Linked DNA regions of Homo sapiens. The protein of the gene in region 1 purifies or fractionates together with the protein of each later gene. This does not show direct contact. Each region holds a gene or a part of one and is shown in the gene's direction. Other genes may lie near its edges. The genes, in order: SATB1, BEND3, LEMD2 and CRTAP.

Evidence for each region.
Region 2: the proteins of SATB1 (region 1) and BEND3 purify together in Homo sapiens (affinity purification with mass spectrometry, with the first as the bait; one large-scale study listed by BioGRID). This does not show direct contact.
Region 3: the proteins of SATB1 (region 1) and LEMD2 purify together in Homo sapiens (affinity purification with mass spectrometry, with the first as the bait; one large-scale study listed by BioGRID). This does not show direct contact.
Region 4: the proteins of SATB1 (region 1) and CRTAP purify together in Homo sapiens (affinity purification with mass spectrometry, with the first as the bait; one large-scale study listed by BioGRID). This does not show direct contact.

The regions. Positions count from the first base shown.
Region 1 is NC_000003.12:18,414,729-18,419,506, reverse strand, and holds part of SATB1 (DNA-binding protein SATB1), read left to right. Parts: intron 1-2,428; coding exon 2,429-2,605; intron 2,606-3,373; coding exon 3,374-3,500; intron 3,501-4,272; coding exon 4,273-4,396; intron 4,397-4,778. UniProt on the Homo sapiens protein: Crucial silencing factor contributing to the initiation of X inactivation mediated by Xist RNA that occurs during embryogenesis and in lymphoma.
Region 2 is NC_000006.12:107,097,926-107,102,703, reverse strand, and holds part of BEND3 (BEN domain-containing protein 3), read left to right. Parts: intron 1-3,407; 5' UTR 3,408-3,418; coding exon 3,419-3,455; intron 3,456-3,950; coding exon 3,951-4,153; intron 4,154-4,778. UniProt on the Homo sapiens protein: Transcriptional repressor which associates with the NoRC (nucleolar remodeling complex) complex and plays a key role in repressing rDNA transcription.
Region 3 is NC_000006.12:33,779,131-33,782,630, reverse strand, and holds part of LEMD2 (LEM domain-containing protein 2), read left to right. Parts: intron 1-1,477; coding exon 1,478-1,554; intron 1,555-2,451; coding exon 2,452-2,531; intron 2,532-3,500. UniProt on the Homo sapiens protein: Nuclear lamina-associated inner nuclear membrane protein that is involved in nuclear structure organization, maintenance of nuclear envelope (NE) integrity and NE reformation after mitosis.
Region 4 is NC_000003.12:33,134,347-33,139,124, forward strand, and holds part of CRTAP (cartilage-associated protein isoform 1 precursor), read left to right. Parts: intron 1-4,778. UniProt on the Homo sapiens protein: Necessary for efficient 3-hydroxylation of fibrillar collagen prolyl residues.

The DNA.
Region 1 (4,778 bases):
GCAAACTTTAATGCCAGGACAGTTTTAGACAAGGATTCTACAGACTTCACTGCTCCTTATGGCAGACGTGCTGTTTACACAGGCTCATAAACCTTCAGCAAAAGCTTCTAAGACTGCCTTCAGGTTTAAATCATGTGGTATTTTTAGCATTCAGCAGTGACCAGTGCTCTCCCCTTTAAATGCTGGAAGGTTATGAAGTTGCTGTAGTTGGAACTCTCGCCAAACACTAGCACGAATAATCATACAGTTCAGAAAAGGCTTGTGTTCAGCATTACTCCCAGAAACGGGAGGGTAACCGCAACAGTTTGCTAGAAGGTCTGTAATTAGATAGTACTATTGTCACTTTATAGCCGTCTTTATTATTTTAGGGTACCTCTAAACATGATCAATAAAATCCACAATAAATCCAATATATTTCAATAGTTTGAAAACCCTGCAGTTATTTCATAGATCTAAGGAAAAGCATATTGTAGAATACATCTGATTCATCCTACAAAAGGAAAAATGAATGTGTACATTTTTGTTGTACTTACCCAACTCTTTGAAGATATCAGGACAGGAGGAGGAAAACTAAAAGTACAGTAAATTCACTTCCTGCTCAAATGCTTTTTGGTTTTGTTTTGTTTTGTTTTGGATGTATTCTAAAAATGCAGTTTAATTGTAGGAGGGTCTCAGATACTCCAAATAACAAAATTACTAAAGTCTTTTTGTGGGTTTTTATTAACATTTTCATCTTATTTTTCATGTGCATGGTTTCTGTCTGATAGGTGCTAAATGAAAATTATGGCTGAGATGAGAAAACACTACTAAGAAAAAGGGATTGAATGGTTTTATTTGTTTAGGCGATTTTGCCAGAATACCTTCAAGCCAAGGAAGGAATCGCCAGTTTGCATATTGCTATTTTTGCTGTGGTCTCCCCAAGTTGTCTTCTGATCCCCGACGGGTTCTTTCTCTGGTATAAAACAGCTGAATGAATGACAAAAATATTGGCAAGCTCTGCGGCTTGTTTTTCATGCCTAGCCTATTGGTACCTCCGAATGAGTTTGTGAGTTTTTCTAAGTAAACCTAAAGGGTTTTGTCAGACCTAGAATCTCTTGTGAACAGTTCACTAAAGCTTTGGTGAAGACTCACATGTAGAAAGATGTAGCTGTTTTATTGCCGGCTTTTGTTCAGCAGAAACAAGCAAATAGAGAATCTTTGAAGGGCCTCTCTGGTGTCAGTAGGAAATCCTGATTTTTAGCTACGGTTGGTGTGCACTAAGTCATCTTCAGAAGTTGGTAGGATTCTGTGAGTCCAGAGGACAGAGCTTATAGAGGCATTAGTATTGTAGGACTAATTGTGGATCCTGGGTGCCCTGTTAAAGTAACCCTTGTCATCATTTATGCTAAAGATGATACCCTTCTGGCAGTTTGCCACAGTACAATTCAGATGCATCTGCTTTTAACCCTTTTCCGTTATCATTGGAAGTCTGACAGTGCGCTGCATAAACACCTTGAGTACCACAGCATTCCGTAATATCAATTTCTAGAAGAAGCCTCTTTCTAATAGTAGTGTGGCCGGTGCTTATTAATCATCTAGCTACTGAGTTACTGTATTGGATTAAAATATATAAAGAGAGAGCACACCAAATCTATGCAGATTCCTTTATCCTAGTATGTCAGTTTCCTTTTCTATCTCTCATTTTTACCTTATTTACTGTAACAAAGATTGTTGATTTTAAAGACTTATGGGTACCGTGCTCTCTTTTTAGTTAGGTAGGTTAAATGAGTATTCATAAAAGCAAATGTTATTTTTCTACATTATGCAGATATTGAAATTGTGTATTATGAGCACCAGTTTGGTTAAGTACTTTTTGTGGAACCAGTTAGAGCTAATATCTAAAAAAGGAAGAAAATGATTTGTGGAACCAGTTAGAGTTAATATCTAAAAAAGGAAGAAAATGAAAATTTCGTGGTCGAAGATAATTTGTTTGGACACAAACCCAGGAAAAGTTTATTATTAACAAAATCATGTAAGCAGTAGAAAGGTGGGTTCTTCTGAAGATAAATGGTGAGTTATGTTTGCATACTGTATACTACTCATAGCAAATTAGAGAAGATACATTTATTTCTCTTTCGTCACCATTATTATTTGATCAGAAAGGTAATTCTGCATTCATTGCTTTTGGAAAATGCACTGTTAATTTAGAGCACAGCTTACCTTAGGACCAAGTTCATATTCTACTTAAATATTTCTGTTACGACTTTAAATAATATGAGAATGTATATATTTGTGTGCATTTGCCTGTACTGTACCCAGTCTGCCTTGGAAGCACAGTGAATCTCTTGTGATTATTTATTTTCATGGCTAATATTTCCTCCCGCCACCCCCAAGCTGTATTTCTGAAGATTGTTGGTTTTCCATCTCTTCTTCTTCATCTTTTTGATAGGAACCATGCTGCCAGTTTTCTGTGTGGTGGAACATTATGAAAACGCCATTGAATATGATTGCAAGGAGGAGCATGCAGAATTTGTGCTGGTGAGAAAGGATATGCTTTTCAACCAGCTGATCGAAATGGCATTGCTGTCTCTAGGTTATTCACATAGCTCTGCTGCCCAGGCCAAAGGTAAATAATGTGTACGTGGGGTTGGAAAAATTGCTTAGCATTCTTTGTTTACCTTGCAGAGAAAGCACTGAATATTTTTATTCAAAGAACTGTAGCCTGTGTATTACATTGGTTCCTTATAGGCTGTGGCTTTAAAAAATTGGCTTAATTCAGTTTGGTTTAGTTAACACACATTTTGCTCATGTGGAATGTCGAGGTAGATTTTTTTTTTAAATTACTTCAGCTGAATCATTAGTATGCTTATTGACCTTAATAATCTGCTCCACTGAGGACCCACAAGGAAGTGAGGAGCGTATTTGAGCAGATGGACTGTTGAGAGTCAATTTGCATTTATGACTGAATATCTAGTTCTGTTTCTTTTATTCTGTTTCTGATGGTTTTATGGGCTGCAAAGTATTTTTCAATGCTGATTCCCACTGCAATAGAGAATCTTATCTAAATCATAAAGCCATTTAGAACTGGTTCGGCTATGTCTTATTAGAACTTCCTGTAAGTTAGGAAAATGTGGCCTTATGCATAGGTTTTATTGATGGGGTTTTATTTCCAAAATAATAAACAACCCTACAGTCATTTACATAATTTTACAATTTGGAAAGCTAAGCTGTGAATATTTTCATTGACCTGCCTTTTAGAGGGAAGGGAATCATTCAAACAGAAATAACGGTACTGCTTGTGGTAGGGGTAGTAGAAAAGAAAAGAACACCCTTCTAGTAGATATATTATCTGAGGGTAAAATATTTAGTGACATATTCTCTTTATCTGAAATAGGGCTAATCCAGGTTGGAAAGTGGAATCCAGTTCCACTGTCTTACGTGACAGATGCCCCTGATGCTACAGTAGCAGATATGCTTCAAGATGTGTATCATGTGGTCACATTGAAAATTCAGTTACACAGGTGAGTCAAGACAGCAAATCTAGGGTGAAACATTCTTCTTACCTGGTCTTTTGAAATGAAGCATTTCTCTCTGGTCGACCTTCAATTTTTTTTTAGTCTGTGTTTCAGAAAGGTTAATACAGATCGATTTTGTTACCCTATCCTTCTGCCTTTTTTCCTAACTTCAATGTATAATTTAAAAGCAATCCCCCCCCCCACACACACAAAAAATGTGTAGGTTTGTGCAGGTTATCAAAAGACAAGACTTTTTACGTTTAGTCAATTAAATAATGCATCACAAGAAGGCATTTTACATAAAGTTTACTTAAGAAAAAAATATTTTTGCATATCATGAACAGTGCCATCTGTGTACATTTTGTGAAAGACTGTCTTATTCACTATTACCACAGTCTTATTTATTTATTTATTTTTTTATGATTTTTAATTCATATGAACAGAGTAATGAAAGGAAATCGGTTAATACATTAAAGCTTTTCATGATGGCTCAGGAGAAAGCAGTACACCTTAAATTGTCTTCCCAAGCGCATCAGAGCAGGAAGGTAGAAGTAACATGAAAAAATAGCCACCACAGGCAGCTGATGTATAATTCATGCATCGATACAGCAGATGTGTTGTATAAAGTAATTAACTAATCGGAACAATCAGGAGACCGAGAGCAATCTCCAGATGCATCTGTTTGATGCGCAAAATGAAATCTGTCTGTCTTAAAGGAATGTTCTGCAGCGGGATGCAATCTTGTAATAATCCCCTTTCTAATCTATGTCTCAAATAGTTGCCCCAAACTAGAAGACTTGCCTCCCGAACAATGGTCGCACACCACAGTGAGGAATGCTCTGAAGGACTTACTGAAAGATATGAATCAGAGTTCATTGGCCAAGGAGTGCCCCCTTTCACAGGTACTTAGCATAGAATGTAATAAATAATAAGACATCATGGGCAACCCTGATTTGAGGTTTGATGGAGCTCCCTGGTTTAAAGCAACTGGTATCTGAAGCAAGAATCTGCCAAAAATGCAAAGTGACTTGACCACTGGTGACCTTTTAAAATATGCCTGATTCCTTGTGAACAGAGCCTATAGGCTTTTTCTCCCTTGGGGAAAAGAGGCAAAGGACTGTTTACAGGAAAAACAGTTCAGTGGAAGACTCCGCTGGCTAATTTTTAGATTTGTCTTCTGAGTGCTATTAGCATGATGGCTAAATTCTCCTGAATGCCCTTATTTAAGAAAGAGTCGAGGTGGTACTACTCCCACGAAGCTTCGGTGAGAGGGAATGGCAGTGT
Region 2 (4,778 bases), on another chromosome or scaffold:
GGAGATTCCCCAGCTTCTTAATGAGTGAAGCTGATTTGCTGGCCCGGAGGGAAGGGGCCCACCATGCTGTGTTCTGGGCTACTTCTGGGCTAACCTAGCATCTGTCACTAGTCTATAAATGGACACGGAAGTGTTTTCCAAAGCACAAGCACTCGGTGTCTTGAATGCCCAGGCAGCCGCACCAGCACCCCTTCCTCCCACCTCAGCTGCATGAGCCCTCTGGGGTTTCTGCCCACTGCAGGTGGCTGAGATGTGTGCTCTTCCTTCATCACTTTATAGGGGCTCAAAATTCAGAGGCCAAATTGCCTGCTGTAGGGTCACATGGTGGTGGTTCAGAAAATAGCCTCCTTCCAACCCCACTGGAAACAAGGAAAAATAAAAAATCAGAAAATAGGTTTTCTGCTCACCAAGCCACATTCCCGGCAGGCTCCATGTGGCAGCCTGGACTCCAGCCCTGCACTGCTCCCTATGTGATGGGCCTGCCAGAGACACATGGTTGGGCGAATATAATGGCAGATAAATAGACTGCCCTTCTCACCACCCATGGCCCTGTCTGCTGTGTTCTCTCATCGACGCCTGTTTTGTTTTGTTCTAGTATTTGCCCATCCTTTTAGTGCTTTCCACTTACCAGAATCTTTGACTCTTTGCAATTTTTCTTTCACCATGACCCTTTTCCTCCCCAAATAAACCAACCGCTGTCTCCTCCCTCTCTGCCTTTTCTCTGCCAAATGTAATTTGTTTTGTAAAGTATGTCCGCCTCTGACAGCCATCGTTTTGCCCCATCTGTTCTGCATCTCAGAACTCCCCTTGATTGGCAGGAATGGGTTATGTGACCATGGCAGTTTCCAAGGGCAGGGGCATTCAGGTGACCTGCAGTGTGTTTCCTTGAGAGGCCTCCTACCAGGCTGGGAATCCGGTCTTGAATTTCTGCCTGGCATTGTCCAGCCCTTCTAGCCACTCAGAGACACCCAGCTCAGATGATGGCGATCCAAAGTGAGGTGTAGTTCCTTGAAATACAGTGGAAGGAGTTGCTAAAATTTGACTCTGGTAAAATAGTTCTCGGACCCTTGAAGTTGACTTATTATTTGTTTTCTGTCAATATCACCCTGTGTGTAATGTTTTTTCAGGTAGGAGATGGCTTGGTGAGTAGGAATTATTTTCAGTTTCAAATCTCATTTTGGTTTTCATTCCTCTGAAAATTAGCAATACAGGGATGAAAAGAATTGTGCCTGTCTTGCACTATTGTGCACTGTTCTTGAACTAAAAATAGTGCTTCACATCATAAGCACTGTATGTGTTGCCATTATTAGTAACCTTTGCAGTGATGATTGTGCTCATGGATCACCCAGACACACTCTCCCTCTTGCTGCCATCCCCACCCCATTCACCTGTCTAAAACAGGTACTGTATGTCAAACACACACCATTCTGTGGCTACTCCTTGAATGGTTCACTGAACATTTTAGATGGCTTCATGCTTACAGAGTTTCTTTCTTTTTTTTTGAGACAGAGTCTCACTCTGTCACCCAGGCTGGGGTATAGTGGTGTGATCTTGGCTCACTGCAACCTCTGCCTCCCGGGTTCAAGCAGTTCTCCTGCCTCAGTCTCCCAAGTAGCTGGGACTATAGGCGTGTGCCACCATGCCCAGCTAATTTTTGTATTTTTAGTACAGATGGGGTTTCACCATGTTGGCCAGGCTGGTGTTGAACTTCTGACCCCAGGTGATTCGCCCACCCCAGCCTCCCAAAGTGCTGGGATTACAGGCACGAGCCACCATTCCCGGCCAGAAATTTCTTAAGAGATACTTCTTGGTCCTGCTCTCCACTCATCCTCAACCAAAATGAGAACTCTGTGTTTGTAGTCAGCTTAATCAGTTGTGGGGATCACAACTCCCAAGTGTCAACATTAAAGATTGCAATGTATATTCTCCAAATGTTACTACCTTTGTATCTTGTACTATTTATGTACATGCTGTCATGGTATTCGGAGATATCAGAGACTTAGTGGTAATTTTGTTTGTTTTGTTTTAGTGGTGCTTTGCCTCATGGTGTCAGTTCCATTCCAGCTGAGGCAGGCAGGTTTTGCTTCAGACCCTGCAGCCTGGAACAGAGCACTGCCCACCTTTCTAATGAAGCTTAGGCTGGGCACAATGGCTCACACCTCTAATCCCAGCACTTTGGGAGGCTGAGGTGGGCGGATCATGAGGTCAGGAGATCGAGACCATCCTGGCTAACACGATGAAACCCTGTCTCTACTAAAAATACAAAAAATTAGCCGGGAGTGGTGGCTTATGCCTGTAGTCCCAGCTACTCGGGAGGCAGAGGCAGGAGAATCACTTGGAGGCAGAGGCAGGAGAATCACTTGAACCCAGGAGGCGGAGGTTGCAGTGAGCCAAGATTGCGCCACTGCACTCCAGCCTGGTGACAAAGCAAGATTCCGTTTCATAAACAAATAAATGAAATAAAGTATTGTATTTAGCCCAGTAAGTCCAAAATATTATCATTTCAACATGTAATCAATATAAAGCAATTATTAGGACTGGGCACTGTGGCTCAGATGTGTAATCCCAGCACTTTGGGAGGCCAAGGTGGAAGGATCGCTTGAGGAGTTCAAGAGCAGCCTGGTCAACATAGTGAAACCGCATCTCTACAAAAAAATTTTTTAATTAGCTGTGGGTGGCGGCATGTGGTACCTGTAGTCCTAGCCATTCTAGAGGCTGAGGCAGGAGGATTGCTAGAGCCCAGGAATCAGAGGCTGCAATGAGCCATGATAGTGCTACTGTACTCCAGCCAGGGTGAAAAGAGTGAGACCTTTCCTCTAAAAAAAAAAAAATTACTAGTGAGATATTTTGCATTTCTGTTACTAAGTCTGAGATTTGGTGTGTATTTTACACTTATAGCACATCTCCATTGGACTAGCCACATTTTGAGTCCTTGGTAGCCAGGTGTGGCTAGTAGCCACCTTCAGGTCATGGGCAGCACAGTTCTCTTGACAACCGTAAGTCCTAAGATTTCAGGATCCATGGCCCCCATCCTTCAGCCTATTTGTTTTGTGGCTGGAATTTATAAGCATGGACTTAAAAGAGATAATTAAAATTGGGGTCTTTTTTAAGAGTTGATTTGTTCTTGTAATGTTCCCATGGCTCAGTAAGTGGCTATCAGTGGATGCTGTAAGACACATTCTGCTCACATAAAGTCTTGGAGAAGAGCTCCCAGCAGGGATGCACAAGGCCTGGCTGCTCCTGAGTGTCTGCAGACAAGATTAGGAGGACACATAGCTTCCACAGTGCTGTGCTGCTCTGTTACCTAGAGCTGGGGTTGGGAGGGTAAGAGGATTTTCTGTGGGTAGAGAAAATTAAGAAATAAATCAAGCAATAAGTCAACACATTGTCTTTGTCTTTTTATTTAGCGGAATAGAAGATGAACTCAACTGAATTCACCGAAGATGTAGAAGAAGGTAAAAAAAAAATGCCCTTTTTGAAAAATGTTTTTAACTGAATACTTTTGATCAGGTCATACATTCACATGGTCCAAAAATATACAAAGTTATATAGTGAAAAGTCCCCTCCACCCACACACTTGTTCCCCGGTTCCCATCCCCCTCCACCCACACACTTGTTATAAGCACCTTGTGTCACTTTTTAAAAATTACTTTTTTAAAGCACAAAAAGATAATATTTTATGTCTCTCCTTCCACTGTCTTCCCCCCCAAAAAAAGATGTTTAAACCAATTTGAACTAAATGCTCTTGGAACATGGCTTTATTGTACAGCACTAGTGCGGTGAGATAAAGATTGCATCGTTGGAAAGCTCAGGTTTGTTACAACTAGACATCATTATCTCAGCACTGGTGTCAAAGGGCGGCCCACAGACACCCTGCTGCTCAGAGAACCCTGCTGATCTCTGAGCAGCCCTGGTTTTTCCCACTGAGCCCTATTTCTTCTCTGACACAGTTCTAAAAAGTATCACTGTGAAAGTGGAGACAGAGGCTGAAGATGCTGCTCTGGACTGCTCCGTGAATTCCAGGACTTCTGAGAAGCACTCTGTGGACAGCGTCCTCACTGCCCTGCAGGACTCCAGCAAACGAAAGCAGCTGGTCAGCGATGGCCTGCTAGACTCTGTCCCCGGCGTGAAGAGGAGGCGGCTGATCCCCGAGGTGAGGGCCTAGCTGCTGTCACTCTTTGCTTGGGCTCTAACCCTCTCTGATTCCATGCTGAATCTCCCTCTTGTTTTGGGCATCCTGGCAACTGCTGAACCCTTGGGCATGGGAAGGTTTCATTTAAGCTATCCCATCTCTGGCTTCAGTTTCTCGAAAGTGTCTGTCTTTAACTGGAATTCTTGTTTGTGTTGGGATTCCTGGTGGGTAAAGGGAGCCTTCACATTGCAGCTGCTTTTGCGTTATTTTGCTGTGCTTTGTGGGGGAAAGCAGGAGCTTGCTGATAGTGAGGACGGTTAACGTAAGCCTACCACACTTGACATAGTAGCTGATTCTTGCAAAAGTGGGGCATTAGCTGGAGGTCAGGTCTTTTCCTAAATTAAATCTATCATTCACTTATTTAAATAGAGACTGGATCTCACTATGTTGCCCAGGCTGGTCTTGAACTCCTGGCCTCAAGTGATCCTCCTGACTTGGCCTCCCAAAGTGCTGGGATTACAGGCGTGAGCCATAGTGCACAGCCAACTCTTTGTTTAATTGGTTTGTTTTAACTCTCCCCTGTTGGATGTTAGGGCAGATCCAAACAAATTAGGAAGTTATACATTTTAGGGATTTGGTTAGGCTT
Region 3 (3,500 bases), on another chromosome or scaffold:
AGGCACAATGCCTTTTAGCTGGAGCAGTCAGGAGAGCGTCACAGGAGGTAGCATCTGTGCCAGGCCCTGAAGCCCAGGTAAGACTGGTTACATGTATGTGGGGAAGGACAAGGCAAAGCGGCAGGAAATTACATCTCGAGTGGGAAGCAGCACCTTCATGGAGGAAGGGGAAGATGAGAGAATGAAGTTTGGAAGTGTTGGTTGGGCCCTACCATAGATGGCCTTGGATGCCAGGCCACCAGAGCTTGATCTGGCAGGCAGTGAGGGCCAGAGAGGCTTTGAGCAAGGGAGTATCATGCTGAGAGCCAGGTGCCAGGAAGGTGAATGCGGCAGCAGCTTGAGTAGCACAGTTAAGCAGAATCATTTTCAAGTGTTATTGACAAAACAACTGGATTGGGAAAGGGAGAGGAGGAACCGAATCGAGAGGCCATCTACGTGGTCCAGGCAGGCCTGGCAAGGGCAGGAAGAGTCCTAGTGGGAAAAGGAGGATGCTAGAAGCCACCTGTGTCTCAGGGGACCCCTGGGGTCAAGATCAACTTTGAAGTAGGAGGATCTGGCTGTGTTAGGGGAAGGCGACAGGCTTCAGTTCAGTTTCAAAGTTTTAAAATATGACCTTCAGCTGCTCCCTTCCCCAGCATGCAGAAACACACTCACTGGCCACCCGAAGTCCCCCAGGCTGTGCTGGGTCAGGGCAGTCAGGCCACGCACACGTGTTAAATAGTGTATGCGTGCGTGGCCCTGCACCCTCCCTGCTCTCGGGGAGTCAGGCAAACCACAGCACAGGAGCGAGGACCAAGGGCTATGGCAGGTCACCAAATCTGGGGCCATTTCATCAAACAAAAGGCCCCCAGGGGCTGAGGGCTTCCCAGGGGAGATGGCCCCTGGGCTGGACCGGGGAGGTTGGGCAGGACTAAGTGGGAGGCTGCCAGCTCCATCCTATGGGAGCAGGCCTCCAAAGCCACTCGGGGGAGCTGCCCCTTGGCGTGCTGTGCTGAGGCCCCACTGCCCAGCACACAGACATCCTCTTCCTCCAAGGGGCCCCTCAAGACAATAGACCTGGCATTCCAGGTCGCCTGCCTGTGTCATGAGTCAGAATCCCCGTGGTGCCCATGGCCTCCCTGCCTTTCTTTTTTCTCAGGCTGTGTTTATTTATAGTGCCATTCCGGTACCTTCCGAAGCTATCTGTCTGATTCTTTTAGGGATCAATTGCAAAGAGACCTTGCTATTGGGCAGCTTTTTAGTCATTTAATGCAAAATGCCACACTGCTTTGCAGGTCAGGTTTTAATGATCTGGAATCGATCCAAGCTAAGTGGCTTTTGATCTTGCTGCAGAGTGAAGATGCCCCACAGAAGCCAGGAGCCGCTGGGCAACATGCTCCTTATTAGAGCTGATGGCTTGATTCTTGCTGCATTTTTTAGTCTGTTTCAGAGTGATTTTTCCTTTGTGTTTGAGCATGTGTGGTTTTTTTTCTCCTAGGTAATTTTGAGTGTGGAAATCCAGAGAATCTAAAAAGCAAATGCATTCCTGTTATGGAAGCCCAAGAATATATAGCCGTAAGTAGGCTTCAGTGCTTATACATTCCTGGGAGGGCCTGGTGCTTTCCTATTGGTCTTTCAAGCCCTGTTGGGGTTTTTGTTTTTTGTTTGCTTTGTGGCTTTTGTACTAGGCTACCTTAAGTTAAGGTTTGGTTTATGGCTTTTTGTGCTAGACTACCTTCAGTTAAGGCAGCCATGGTAGTGACTGCCCCAGAGCCAGGCCGCCATGTGCAGTGGGGCGGCTCACTCCTGACTGCTGCACTGTAGGTGTGCCTGTTACCTGCTTCTCCCTTGGTTCACTTTGCTCGTCTTGCCTTCGGCTTTCAGGAGAAACATGCTGTCCCTTCTCCCCCGTATGATTACCATTCAGACTGCCCAGGGGCCGTCTGATTTCCTGTGTGGCCTCAGGATGGTAGATTATAGAACTATGGAGCTGGTATTCCAGGTCGCCTGCCTGTCCAGTAACTTAGGGGTCATCTGGTTCCATTTGCATTTCACAGATGAAGAAACTGAGGCCTGGAGAGGGTCAGGGACTTGCCTGAGGCCAGACCACTTGCACCGGCCACTGGGCTCACCCACCCCCAGCCACAACGCTGTTATTCGCTTTACCCTAAGATGAGCTGCCAGCTCTCTGGCCTGATGCTTCCATCCTCGAGAGAATCATATTCTTTTGGCCGCCTCAGACCCGCACTGTTTTCCTGCTTGTGCTTCCGCATCACCTCCTCTGGTTATAGCCTCTTCCTTGGCTTTCATCAACCCCCGATTTCCTTCCTGCCACTTTGCTGTGCTTTTAGCAGAACAGGGTTTTGGGGCTGTGGAGGACACGGGAGAGGGCTTCCTTAATCCAGCAGCAGAATAATGTTCCAGCTGCTCCGCCCAGACGCCGAACTAACCTTCTCCCGCGCCCTCCCACAGAATGTGACCAGCAGCTCCTCCGCCAAGTTTGAAGCCGCACTGACCTGGATACTGAGCAGTAACAAGGACGTGGGCATCTGGTGAGTGTGGGCAGGGTGGCGACGCAGCATGGGTGCCTGCAACCACTGTCCTCGCTCGTCAGCTAACACCCGTGCTCCAACAGAGCTGTCTCAGGTCTGAAGCTGGAGGCTGGGTCTCCCAGCAGAATCATGTGGGTTAGGATGGAAGTGGGGCAACAAAAGCAAGAAGCATTTGGAATGCAGTGTAAGGAGCAGCTTCAAGATGAGACACAAAATCCAGGTGTTAGGATGTTAGCCTGGTGTTCCAGCTAAATCCTGTCTCAGGTAACTCAGTCTGTGCCTTTCTCATTCATCAACAACACCACATGGTTTGTTGGGGAAGGCATTTTTCTGCACTTCCCCTCCTCGGGAGCTAGTTTTTATTTGTAGATGAAATTATTCTTTCTGTATGTTGGTTTTACTTACTATGGAAATCGCATAAGGAAATACTGGATTTTATTCTGACCAGGCAGTTTCTGCCTCATTTTTATCACTGGTGAGCACTGTTAGAAAAGGTAGCAAACCCTTTCATGAGGCTGAAAGGCTGTATCTGGCGGCTCAGCCCAGGGGGAGGGGCGTGTCAGCCAACAGCCAGGCAGCCTTGAGAGACCTGTCCCCTGCTGGCAGAGCAGCATCACTTCCCCACTTCCCACTCTCGGTGTTTGTGGGGGTCTCTGTTCAGGTTATAGCTCTTGATATTAAAACGTCTCTAGAGTTTTGTTCTTTTCCTCTCTAATCCACCCAAATTACTAATTCCATCAGCACTGCATCCAGCAGAAGCCCCTCGGGCAGCTCCACCTCAAGCTGGATAACTGGATGCATGGCACGATTAAAATTTGTTGGCTTAAAAAAAAAAAAAAGCTGCCCTGAGTAGCTGAGCAATTTTCCTGTGTTAGAAAAGGCGGAGGAGAATACGGATTTTATCCTCAGCAGCAGCGCTCACTGAAGCTGCTAACACAGAAGAATGATGACACTCACCTTTTCATGTTG
Region 4 (4,778 bases), about 15 Mb from region 1:
GTCCTCCCTGAAGTAAGAAACAGAGGGGACCTTGAGAAAGACAGTTCCTGTGGGTGTTTCAGTGACAGTCAGAATGCTGGCATGGGAAAGAGCGGCTTTCTAGGAAACCTAGGCAGGAGTGCCACATTTCCTGATAGCGAAACGGGTGTGGGGCCACACTCCAGGAATTCACAGTGGTCATTCTTCATCTTTTCACTTTATATAAAAACAGTGAATTTTTAATTGCTCAGCACTCTGAAGAGACATGGATACTCACACCCCAATTTTTCTGCTAGACTATTGCTATTATTATTTTTTCTAAATTGCATCTTTACTGTAAGCATTTTGTCATTCTCTAGAATTGCTTGAAATTCCTGATTCCACCTTACTCAGCTGACCCCTTTTCTGACCCTGACTCAACTGGTTATGGAGTGGTCATTTTGTGATGAGTCTGGTCACAGAAAAGCCATCATTAGCGGTAGTATTTAGAGTATTTGTTTGGAACAAACTGGAAAATGCTTACTGAGAAAGCTGGGGACTTGTCAGCTATTGGAGCTCGAAGAGAGCTGTGAGCTTGCTCTGGTCTGATCCTTCGCTTTATAGATGAGGAGCATGGGGCCAGCAAGTTTCCTGAGCCTCCAGGTCTGCTCTTCCTATACCCGTTTTAGGTGAAGTACCTCTGAATAAGACATCTTCGTGGAATTTGTTTTCTGTCTATAAATATGTATGGGATGAACTCATCACTGGCATTAAACAACTGAGTCTCAGTTCTTTATCTATAAAATGGGAATAATAATACTGCCCTCCCAGGGTTGTGAGAATAAAATACTGTGTTGCATGTGGAAATGCTTTCTAAACTGGAAAGTGATGCAATGCCTATGTCTTGGTTTGGGTATCCTTGAAGCAGAGCCTGAGACAGGATCCCAAGATGCCACAGGGGCCATTCCCCCATTCCCTAAAGGAAGGAACACCAGCCAGATACCAACAAGATTGGCCACTGTGGTTTACAAAGTATAGCAGAGGCTGGGTGTAGTGGCTCACACCTGTGATCTCAGCATTTGGGAGGCCAAAGCAGGTGATTGCTTGAGACCAGGAGTTCAAGACCAGCCTGGGCAACATGGTAAAACCTCGTCTCTACAAAAAATACAAAAAAATTAGCTGGGTATGGTGGAGTGCACCCGTAGTCCTAGCTACTTGGAAGGCTGAAGGAGTCTGGGGAGTTTGAGGCTGATATTGCGCCATTGCACTCCAGACTCGGCAATTGGAGTAAGACCCTGCCTCAAAAAAAAAAAAAAGGAAAGTATAGAAAAATATATTTAGAAAAGGTAAGAGAAGTTGAGTTCCCAGTTATCTAGAGGCAAGCTAATATGGATATTTTGGTATATATCTTTCCATTTTTTTATTATTAAAGAAAAAATTTTATAGTTTTAAATTTGTTTTTCTACATATTTATTATAAACTCAGCTATAATTATGTCTCATGACTTTTTCACTTTATATTATTATGTGAGCAGTTTCTCTTGTTATATTTTTCTAAAACAGCTTTATTTAGATATTATTCACAAAAAATGAAATTCTCCTTTTTAAAGTATACAATTCAGTTGTACTTGTTATATCCACAAAATTTTGCATCCATCACTGTTATTTAACTTTAGAACATTTTTATTGCCCCCAAAAGAAACTCCATAGCTAAGTCACTTCCCATTTCTCCTCTGGGCCAACATTCCCACTCCTGCCTCCACCTCCAGCCCCTGGAAGACTCTAATCTACTTTCTGTTTCTGTGGATTTGCCTGTTGTGGACATTTCATATAAATGGAAATATAGGGTATGTGGTCTTTTGTGACTGGCTTCTTTCACTGAGCATATGTTTTCAAAGTTCAGCCATGTTGAACATGTTGCCTGTAAAATTTCCTCTGTACTACCAAGTAATATTCTTCTTTTGGATGTACCGCATTCTGTTTATCCATTCTTCAGTTGATGGATGTTTGGGTTGGTTCCACTTTTTGGCTATTTTGAATAATGATGCTATGACCATTTGTGTACAAATTTTTGTTTGAACATAAGCTTTCCAGTTTTTTATACCTAGGAGTATATACATAGGTATTATGTTAGGCCATTTTTGCATCACTGTAAAGAAATACCTGGCTGGGTGCAGTGGTTCATGCCTGTAATCCCAGCACTTTGGGAGGCCAAGGCAGGAGGATTGCTTGAGCCCAAGACTAGCCTGAGTAACATAGTGAGACTCTGTCTCTACAGAAAATTTAAAAGTTAGCTGGGCATGGTGGCACAGGAAGTGTGGCAATGGCATCTGCTTGGCTTCTGGTGAGGTCTCAGGAAGCTTATGGTCATGGCAAAGGGGGAGCTGGCGTATGTCACATGGCAAGAGCATGCCACACTCTTTTAAACAACTAGATCTTGTGTGAACTCAGAGTGAGAACTCACTTATTATCATGAGGACAGCACCAAGACATTTTTGAGGCATCCGCCCACCTGACCCAAATACCTTCCACCAGGCCCCACTTCCAACACCGGAGATTACATTTCAACATGAGATTTGGAGGGGACATATATCCAAACCATATCAGGTACATACCTAGGAATGGATTGCTGGGCCATATGGTAATGGTTTAACCTGTTGAGAAACTGCCAGACTGTTTTTCAAAGTGGCTGCACCATTTACATTCCCATCAGCAGTGTATGAGAGTTCCAACTTTGCAATATCTTCAACAAAACTTAATATTGTCTTTTTTTTTTAATAGCCATGCTAGTGGATGCAAGTAGTATTTCATTGTGGTTCTGACTTCCACTTTCTGTTGTTTTTCTTTTCTTTTTGAGACAGAGTTTTGCTCTTGTTGCCCAGGCTGGAGTGCAATGGTGCGATCTCGGCTCACTGCAACCTCCGCCTCCCAGGTTCAAGTGATTCCCTGCCTCAGCCATCCTAGTAGCTGGGATTACAGGCGCGCACCACCACACCCAGCTAATTTTTTGTATTGTTAGTTGAGATGGAGTTTCACTATGTTGGCCAGGCTGGTCTCAAACTCCTGACCTCAGGCGATCCACCCGCCTCAGCCTCCCAAAATGCTGGGATTACAGGCGTGAGCTACTGCACCCAGCTTGACTTGCACCTTCTTAGTGACTATGTTGAGCATCCCTTCATGATTGGCCATTTGTATATCTTTGAAGAAATGTCTATTCAAATCTTTTGTCCACTTTAAAATTGTTACTTATCTTTTTATTATTGTGTTGTAGAAGTTCTTTAGATATTCTAGTTATAAGTTCCTTATCAGATATATGAATTGTAGATATTTTCTCACAATTTGTGGGTTGTCTTTTCAGTTGCTAAATGGTGTCTTGAAGCACAAGTTTTCAAATTTGATGAAATTCAATTTATCTGTTCTTTCTTTTGTTGCTTTTGTGTTGTGTGTCATATCTAAGAAACCATTGCCTAATCCAAGGTCACAAAGATTTACTCCTGATTTTTACTCCTACGATTTTTGTAATTTTAACTCCTGCATTTAAATTTACAACCCATTTGAGTTAATTTTATGTGTGATATTAGGAAGAGGTCTAGTTTCATTCTCTTGCATGTGAATAGCCAGTTGTTACAGCACTATTTGTTGAAAAGACTTTTTCACCATTGAATTGTCTTGGTACCCTTTGAAAGAAATCAGTTGACCATAAATGTGAGAGTTAATTTTCCAGACTCTCAGTCTATACCACTCATCTTGATTTCTATCCTTAAAGTTAGTACTACACTGTCTTCATTAATATAGCTTTTTTTTTTTAAATTACGTGGACTTTCAACCAAGATTAGATTACTGTAGCTTTATACTATATTTTGAAATTTGAATTGTGAGTCCTCCAACGTTGTTCTTCTTTTCCAAGATGATTTTGGCTATTTTGGGTCCTGTACATTTCCATATGAATTATAGGTTTAGCTTTTCAGTTTTTGCAAAAGGCAGCTGGGATTTTTTTATAGGAATTCCACTGAACACATAAATCTCTTTGGGGAGTATTGGCTTCTTAATATTGTCTTCTAATCCATGAACATGAGAAGTCTTTCCACTTATTTGGATTTTTTAAAAATTTATTTCACAGTGTTTTCTTATTTTATTATTCCTAAACATTCTATTCTTTTTTAAAAAATTAAAATAAATTCTTTCCAACCCCTAGTATTCAAGCATTTTATTCTTTTTGATGCTATTATAAATGAAATTGTTTTCTTATTTTCACTTTTGGGCATATTCTAAAAGAATAGAAATACAATAGATTTTGTGTATTGATTCTGCAAACTTGCTGAACTTATTTATTAGTTTGTATGTGTATGTGTATTATTTTTCTTGCGTAATTGTTCTAGTTAAAACTTCTAGTACTATGTTGAATAGAAGCAGAGAGAGTGGGCCTGGCACAGGGGCTCATTCCTCTAATCCCAGCACTTTGGGAGGCTGAGGCAGGAGGATCACTTGAACCCAGGAGTTTGAGACCAGCCTGGGCAACATAGCAAGACCCCATCTCTACAAAAAATAAAAAAATTAGGCTGGGTGTGGTGGCTCACACCTGTAATCCCAGCACTTTGGGAGGCTGAGGTGGGCAGATCACCTGAGGTCGGGAGTTTGAGACCAGCCTGGCCAATCGGTCGAAATCTTGCTTTACTAAAAATACAAAAAAATTAGCTGGGCGTGGTGGCACATGCCTGTAATCCCAGCTACTCAGGAGGCTGAGGCAAGAGAATCGCTTGTACCCAGGAGGTGGAGGTTGCAGTGAGCCGAGATCACACCACTGTACTGTAGCCTGGGTGG